2 linked regions of the Homo sapiens genome follow. The protein of the gene in region 2 binds, or shares a complex with, the protein of the main gene of each other region. Each region holds a gene or a part of one and is shown on either strand. Other genes may lie near its edges.

What was found.
Region 1: CDH26 (region 2) and CTNNB1 share a complex: the UniProt entries of both Homo sapiens proteins name them as parts of the cadherin:catenin adhesion complex.

What each region holds. Positions count from the first base shown.
Region 1 is NC_000003.12:41,230,243-41,234,059, reverse strand, and holds part of CTNNB1 (catenin beta-1), read right to left. Parts: intron 720-3,817; coding exon 616-719; intron 532-615; coding exon 193-531; intron 1-192. UniProt on the Homo sapiens protein: Key downstream component of the canonical Wnt signaling pathway.
Region 2 is NC_000020.11:59,956,972-59,961,366, reverse strand, and holds the start of CDH26 (cadherin-like protein 26 isoform a precursor), read right to left. Parts: upstream 2,945-4,395; 5' UTR 2,641-2,944; coding exon 2,572-2,640; intron 1-2,571. UniProt on the Homo sapiens protein: Cadherins are calcium-dependent cell adhesion proteins. They preferentially interact with themselves in a homophilic manner in connecting cells; cadherins may thus contribute to the sorting of heterogeneous cell types.

The sequences.
Region 1 (3,817 bases), on a different chromosome or scaffold from region 2:
ATTGGTATCAACTAAAAGTAGTTCTGACTACACAAACATTTCAGAATCTTACCCCTATCGCAGCCATACTTCCTACTTACTAAGGAATACAATTCCTACTTATTGATCACTATGCTTAGACAGCCATCCAACAGCTAGAGATGCTTCATTTTCAATTCTGCAACAAAGGTAAATTCTACTTTGACAATTTACCTTTATCAGAGGCCAGTGGGATGGTGGGTGTAAGAGCTTAACCACAACTGGTAGTCCATAGTGAAGGCGAACTGCATTCTGGGCCATCTCTGCTTCTTGGTGTCGGCTGGTCAGATGACGAAGAGCACAGATGGCAGGCTCAGTGATGTCTTCCCTGTCACCAGCCCGAAGGACAGTACGCACAAGAGCCTCTATACCACCCACTTGGCAGACCATCATCTTGTTCTTATAATTATTGCAAGTGAGGTTAGAAAGAATTCCAGCTGCACAGGTGACCACATTTATATCATCTGAACCCAGAAGCTGAACAAGAGTCCCAAGGAGACCTTCCATCCCTTCCTATGGAGATAAAAACAGATGGTCAGTACAAGCACATACTCATCTTGACTCTATTCCCATGGCACCAGTTTACTCAGAATTTACCTGTTTAGTTGCAGCATCTGAAAGATTCCTGAGAGTCCAAAGACAGTTCTGAACAAGACGTTGACTTGGATCTGTCAGGTGAAGTCCTAAAGCTTGCATTCCACCTAGAAAATTAAAAAGGATATAAGGCCCTAGTCATTAGCTAGAAGTGCCTATCAATCCTAAATATCTGTTCTAGCCTTAGGAGGTGTCCTTCTGTATTTCCAGAGTTTACTTCCTTTCACCTAAGTATTTGATTTCCTCTCATTTTCTAGAATGTTGCTCAGTTTCCTTCACTTTGCCAGTTCACCTCACTAGTGACAAACTCTCAAATAGCTACTGTTCCTTTCCTAAGCCGAAAAAGCCTTTGTTATCTCCACTGTCCCCCTTAGGTAATATTCTTATTACTCATTTCTTTTCATCCATTCAATCATTTCAAAAATATTTATTCAGTACCAGGTCCTGTTCTGAGCTGCAGATAGACCAGTGAACAAAAATATTCAGAAGTTCCTACCCTCAGAATTTATGATCTAGTTGGAAGAGGCAGAAAAATATACAATAAACTAAAACCATACAGTATGTCAGATGATATTAAAGGGCTATGGAGAAAAATAATGGAGTGGGGCTGCGATTTTAAATAGATAATTAGGTCACCTCACTGTGAAGGTGACATCTGACTAAAGACCTAAAGAAGCTAGGTAAATTCCTGGGGTAAGAACAATCCAGAAAGACGGCATGAAAACACTTACTGTCAGGGACTTTATACAATTCACTGACTACAAAACATGTGTTCCAAGGTTTACAATCTTCCATCCTTTAGGACCCTTAAATGGGGGACATTTACTCTGGCAAAGGAGTATAAATGGAAGCCCAATGCCCACATAGTAGATTAACTTCGCTCATCCATCTTCAACTTAAATCACTTCTGAATGCAGTAAGAGATACTTTTCCTTGTCTCCTTCATCTTTCGGGTCTGTTTTATTTCCTCAGATGAGGTCTATCTGCTGTAATTCTTATGGTACCCTGCACTTCTCCTTCATAGTGTAAGTTACTCCACTTTCCCTACAAGACAAAGATCACCTCTGTTGGGTTCCTTTTTCATAGTAGCTCCAGCTACTAATAGAATGATCTGCGTAAGACTGATGATCAGGATGCTCAGTATTTGTGAAATGACTACCTTCTTTCCCCTCTTTAAGACTTCATTCCCTCCCTTTACATAACTATTAACTCTAAGAGAATGGATTTTAACCCCAGATGTCCATCAGAATGGCCTACAGAGACTTTAAAACACACACATTCTGATTCAGCAGTTCTAGGGTAAAAAAAAAAGTCCCATACAGATGACTCTGTGGCACCTCTACCTCCCCTTCCCTGCTGCCCTTACCCCTATATACTAAGAGGGAAACTTCCAAATCTCTAGCCTGCCTCTCTTGCATTCTAGTATCATACATTTCCAGCTACCTACTGACCTTTTAAGTCACTTTAAGTCAGCTTCTTAAATTATTATGTTCAAAAATTAAGGATGCCTTCTGAGGGTTCCATTTATCTTCATGGTACCAATGTTGTCCCCTCCACAAACCGTTTTTGGTTGCTCCCTTAGCTCCTATATTATTACATTCTATGATTCTTTCAGGCATCTCAGACATCTGCCCTTTGCTATTGAGTTCTAAAAGCAAACTATTTCATTCCTAAAAGCCTGTAACATCTCAGTAGTCTGGTCTTCTAGCTTTTGGTCATTCAAACTGTTAATCTATACAATGCTATTATTAATATTTTAAACACACCACTGTGATGCTTTGCTATTGATAAACAACCATCGAAAGTGTCTCAGCATCCTTTTAAGATAATAGAAATACTTTAGTATAACCCTGAGGAACCGTTTAGAATTTGGATCCCACCTAGCCTTCCAAACTGACCAAAGTATTCTGTATCTATGGCTCCAAAGCTGGAATAAAGCATGAATAAACTCCATGAGTAGTAACTATCTTATAGGAACCTAGAAAGTCCTGCATGTTATGGCTCTGCTTACCTAACCTCAACCTCATACCAGGCCATCCACCTCATTACTAAGTTCTGTTTATGCAGACCTTCTCTTCAGCACCTGGATCTCCACAATCTCTTTCCCTTTTTTTTTTTTTTGAGATAGAGTCTCACTCTGTCGCCCAGGCTGAAGTGCAGTGGCGCTATCTCAGCTCACTGCAAGCTCCGCCTCCCGGGTTCACACCATTCTCCTGCCTCAGCCTCCCAAGTAGCTGGGACTACAGGCGCCTGCCACCACGCCCGGCTAACTTTTTGTATTTTTAGTAGAGATGGGGTTTCACTGTGTTAGCCAGGCTGGTCTCGATCTCCTGACCTCATGATCCGCCCACCTCAGCCTCCCAAAGTGCTGGAATTACAGGCGTGAGCCACCGTGCCTGACCAATCTCTTTCCTTCTAAGGCAAGCTTGTCCAACCTGCAGCCCATGGGCCACATGGCCTAGGACAGCTCTGAATGTAGCCCAACACAAATTCGTAAACTTTCTTAAACATTATGAGATTCTTTTGCAATTTTTTTTTGTTTTAGCTCATCAGCTATCATTAGTGTATTTGGTGTGTAGCCCAAGACAATTATTCTTCTTCCAATGTGGCCCAGGGAAGCCAAAAGACTGGATATCCCTGGTTCTAAGACATAGCACATGGTGTTCCTTTTCTCTACCTGGAAAACGTTTAACCCTCACTTCTCATATAGACAAGAGACGGTTCCCTCTCATCCTGCAGTCCCACTTAACATCCCCTTTTCAAGGAGACCTTTTCCCTCTCATCTAGACAATTCCCCTCCCCATTAATTCTCATCACTATTTGCTGTCATTTCTCCCATAACACTCATTCTAATTTAGGATCACATATTTTTAAGTATTTTTGTCACCTTCACAAGACTAAGAATTAAGCACGGGGACCCTATCTGTTGTGTTACCCAATGTATACTATGTGCCTATTCCATTTCTTAAAATACATTAGATGCTATTTTCAGAATAAACAAATGAACATAAGAATAACCTGGAAGAACTTAAAGATTCCTAAGCTTCCAGTCCCATACATGTCCAGCTATCTACAGACCTCCCTGTCACTTCAAATAAAACACTATGAGATCTTGATATAAAAATTAACACTCCAGGGATTCTGATTAAATAAATCTCAAAATCTGTATTTTTAGCCTACATTACAGGTTACTGCTGGAACAGCT
Region 2 (4,395 bases):
TCTACATAAAGCTGCTGTCATCAATCACTGAAGTACAATCCACAGACCCATTCCCACTGCCCACCCCCACCCAACCACCCTCAGAAGTCAATTAATTTGCTTTGGCACTGCACTAATACGCCAGAGGGAAGAGAATTCAGGTCTGTTTCCTGATCAGACTCATTGTGGGTAGGAGCAGGAGTGAGGGAAGGATGGGGACAGGATTTGATCTGGACTATATTCAAATCCATGCAAACATGGGCTACTAAAAAGGACTTCTGTGAAGTATTGGAGATCAAATTAATGTGCTGTCTGACTAAGGAAACTCGTAACTCTTGATATGGCAAAATGTGACCAAGAAAATTCTCCAAACCTCAAGCAACTGGTACCAAACAAGTTATCCACTTTCAGACAGGGTTTTCCCCCTATTATGTTTATTGGTGTATTCCCAGTGCCTGGCCCAAAGCAGGTATCCAGTAAATAGTTTTAGCATGAGCTCTGAATGAATATTGCCAACCATTTTCACTGTGATTAGAAAAACGGCTGGGTCGTTACTGAACTGTGAACCTAATAGTAGACAGAGGCTCTCTAAGAGAAGATGACGTTTGTCTGGGCAAGGACATATCCATGGGAATATGTGTGCCATGGTAAACGATGTGCAGAGTCAGGGAGGTAAAGGGAGATAAAGGTTTTCAAAGGAAAAAATGAGAAGGATTATATCATTGTTTTGAAATAATTATCTTTGGCTACAAAGATCAATAAGAAGGGTGACACTGGTCTGAGTTTGCACAAAAAGTTGCTGGGAAGATTTCTTCGAAAAAGTATTTTTTGTGTAAGGTTTTAACGGCCTTTGTGCAAAGTTGTTATTTTTGCAGAGCTTTTGTGATAGTTTTAGTTATCAAGCCTACAAATGTGAGAACCCCCTTTTCATAACCTTCTTTGTGTCTATATATCAGGCTTTGTGCCTGTGTGTGTGTGTGTGTGTGTGTGTGTTTTAACATAAGGAACTCCATTCTGATTCTGACAACTTTCGCAGTACCAAGGGCTTTTACGCATTTCCTCATTCACTGGTACAACCACTGGCTCAGATAAATTCAGTTACTAGCTCCATTTTCAGGTGAAGAAAAATAGGCTTAACAAGGTTATGTTAAAACCAGTGCACTGACACCCAGTGCACTCCCAGGTCAGCTCAACCTGAACCTTTGGGGGCAAAACCCAGGCACTGAGATCCCTTGAAGCTCCCTAGGTAAGTTCAACTTGATCCAAGGTAAGGAACAAAGTTAAGCTGGCCTAGGTCCCCAGCGGGCTGTGAAGGAGCCTAGGTCAGGACGCCAAGCAGCCCAGTCCAGAGCTCACAGTTACCAGCCACTGGGCTGCTTCCCACCCTCAGCTGGTATTCAAAGGAAGAAATGATTCCCTCTCCCTACCTACAGAAAGCCAACGAAGCAGATCATAACCAACAAGCGCATGCAACATTACCTCTGTCCACTCTAAGTACAAACAGAGCAAGCCCATGTGTTTCGAATCCTGACTCCACTAGTTTGTATTCCCATTTAAACAGTGGCAGTTGGGGGCAATGGATTTAGCCATTCCATCCCCATGGGTTTGCTCAAATTGCCTTGGATCCAGACAACTGAGATTTCCTCAATCTTATGTAAAGTGTGAACAGAAGTATCATTATAAAACTTGGCAGGGCGCAGTGTCTCAAGCCTGTCATCCTAACACTTTGGGAGGCTGAGGCAGGCAGATCACTTGAGGTCAGGAGTTTGAGACCAGCCTGGCCAACATGGTGAAACCCTGTCTCTAATAAAAATACAAAAACTAGCCGGGCATGGTGGCGTGCACCTGTAGTCCCAGTACTCGGGAGGCTGAGCCAGGAGGTTGCTTGAACCCAGTAGGAGGAGGTTGCGGTGCACTGAGATGTCACCACGCACTGTAGCCTGGATGACGAGACCCTGTCTCAAAAAAAAAAAAAAATTGTGTGTGTTGGCTGGGTGAGGTGGCTCATGCCTGTAAACCCAACACTTCGGAAGGGCAAGGCGAATAAATCACTTGAGCTTAGGAGTTCGAGACCAGCCTGGGCAACATGGTGAAAATCCATCTCTATAAAAAATACAGAAATTAGCCAGCGTGGTGGTAAGTTACTGTAGTCCCAGCTACTCTTGAGGCTGAGGTGGAAGGATCACCTGAGCCTGGGAGGTTAAAGCTGCAGTGAGCCTTGATCATGCCACTGCACTCCAGCCTGGATGATGAAGCCAGACCCTGTCTCAACAAAAGGAGAAAGAAACAAAGAAAGAAAACACGTGTGTGTTGATGTAATCTCACTAAAAATAGTGTGAACTATATAAATTAGTTTTAAACAGGTCCCTTAGCCTGCTCCCACTGTTGCCCCAAACAGACTGGGACCCTTAACTTCCCTTTATATAAATCCAGAGCCCCTGCTACCTAAGCCATTCTCAAGACAGCCAGCCCTGGGTCCCAGCAGGTCACACTCAGTCCCTCTCCCCTCCCTTAGCCTAGAAGGGGCAGGGCCAGCTTGTGCTTTGCTTTCAGTTCCCTGCACCTGAGCACTAGGCTGCAGGCTCAGCTTACCTGCAGCAGCCACAGCAGCAGCACTAGAAGCAGCAGCAGCGAGGGGTGCCTCCCGGATCTCATGGCCATATGGGAATACCCAAGACAGACCCAGAACGTGCAGCTGATGACCAGTCCTCCAAGCTGGTGGTCTCACCGGAGCCACACACCTCCTTCTCAGCCAGCAGCTTCTTCTCTAAAGGTTTTCAGGTCACTTTGGCCCAGATGCTTTCATCCCATCTTGCTCCTCCCTTTTCAGCTTTTCTTGCATTTATCAGAGTGGGGTGGGCTGACTTGTAAGCTTGAACATACGTTTGCCACAAGTAGAGTTCCTAGGAAGGGTGGGGTAGAAACTAAAGCCACCATGGTCCTGCACGTACACAAAAGACTGGCTGGGGTCTGACCTCAGGAACAACAGCTCAGCCAGCGGAAGTAAAACCAGCACCTATCGGAAAGCAGAATTATTTGTTTCTTTGTTTCCTTGTTTGTTCTGGTTTCCAAATAGAAGGTCCAATCATCTCTTTCTATAGCAGGATATGTTAGTGACTATTTTCTATAATCTTATCCTCTTGAACCAAACAAAAAAAACTAGAAAATGACAAGAATGATAACTTTATTAAGGGGGAAGGGATGGGGAAGAATGAAAGAAAAGAAAAATCAACTTTTACTTTCCAAAGCACTAAAAATCGTTATTCCAACAATATCCCAGGGCTCTGGGGTTTTCAAATTATTTCTACTAAAACCTTTTTTAAGCTTAGATTAATCTGCCTTTTTGAGTTTGGAATTAAAGTGGGAGGGAGGAGAGATGGGAAAGAGCCTCCCTATGGACAGGGATCTCTGTGGCAACCCGGGAGTCTTTGCATGAGAATTCTGAAAGAGACAATTTGAGATTATATTATACCAATACTTAAGGTTGCAGTAAGCAAGTTTTAAAACACAATCTGTGATACATTAACCCTGATTACCTTAACATGACCTTTTTATCACATTACCTTGTTTAAAGTAGTAAACAGATAAAATAAAAGGTAAACTTTCTTTGCTTGTTCTAGATATTGGCTTAGGCAAGGATTTCATGACCAAGAACCAAAAAGCAAATGCAATAAAATCAAAGATAAATAGCTGGGACCTAATTAAACTAAAGAGCTTTTGCACTGCAAAAGGAACAGTCAGCAGAGTAAACAGACAACCCACAGAGTGGGAGAAAATCTTCACAATCTATACATCTGACAAAGGATTAATATCCAGAATCCACAATGAACTCCAACAAATCAGTAAGAAAAAAACAATCCCATCAAAAAGTGGGATAAGGACATGAATAGACAATTCTCAAAAGAAGATATACAAATGGTCAACAAGCATATGAAAAAATGCTCAACATCACCAATGATCAGCAAAACGCAAATCAAAACCGCAGTGCGATACCACCTTACTCCTGCAAGAATGACCATAATCAAAAAATCAAAAAACAGTAGACGTTGGTGTGGATGTGACAATCAGGGAACACTTCTACACTGCTGGGGGGAATATAACATAGTACAGCTGCTATGGAAAACAGTGTGGAGATTCCTTAAAGAACAAAAGTAGAACTACCATTTGATCCAGCAATCCCACTACTGGGTATCTTCCCAGAGGAAAAGAAGTCATTATTCGAAAAAGATACTTGCACATGCACGTTTATAGCAGCAAAATTCACAATTGCAAAATCGTGGAACCAACCCAAATGCCCATCAATCAACTAGTGGATAAAGAAAATGTGTATATGCGTATCTATATGTATATATACACATATATGCGTGTATATATGTGTATGTACATATATACACATATATGTGTGTATATATGTGT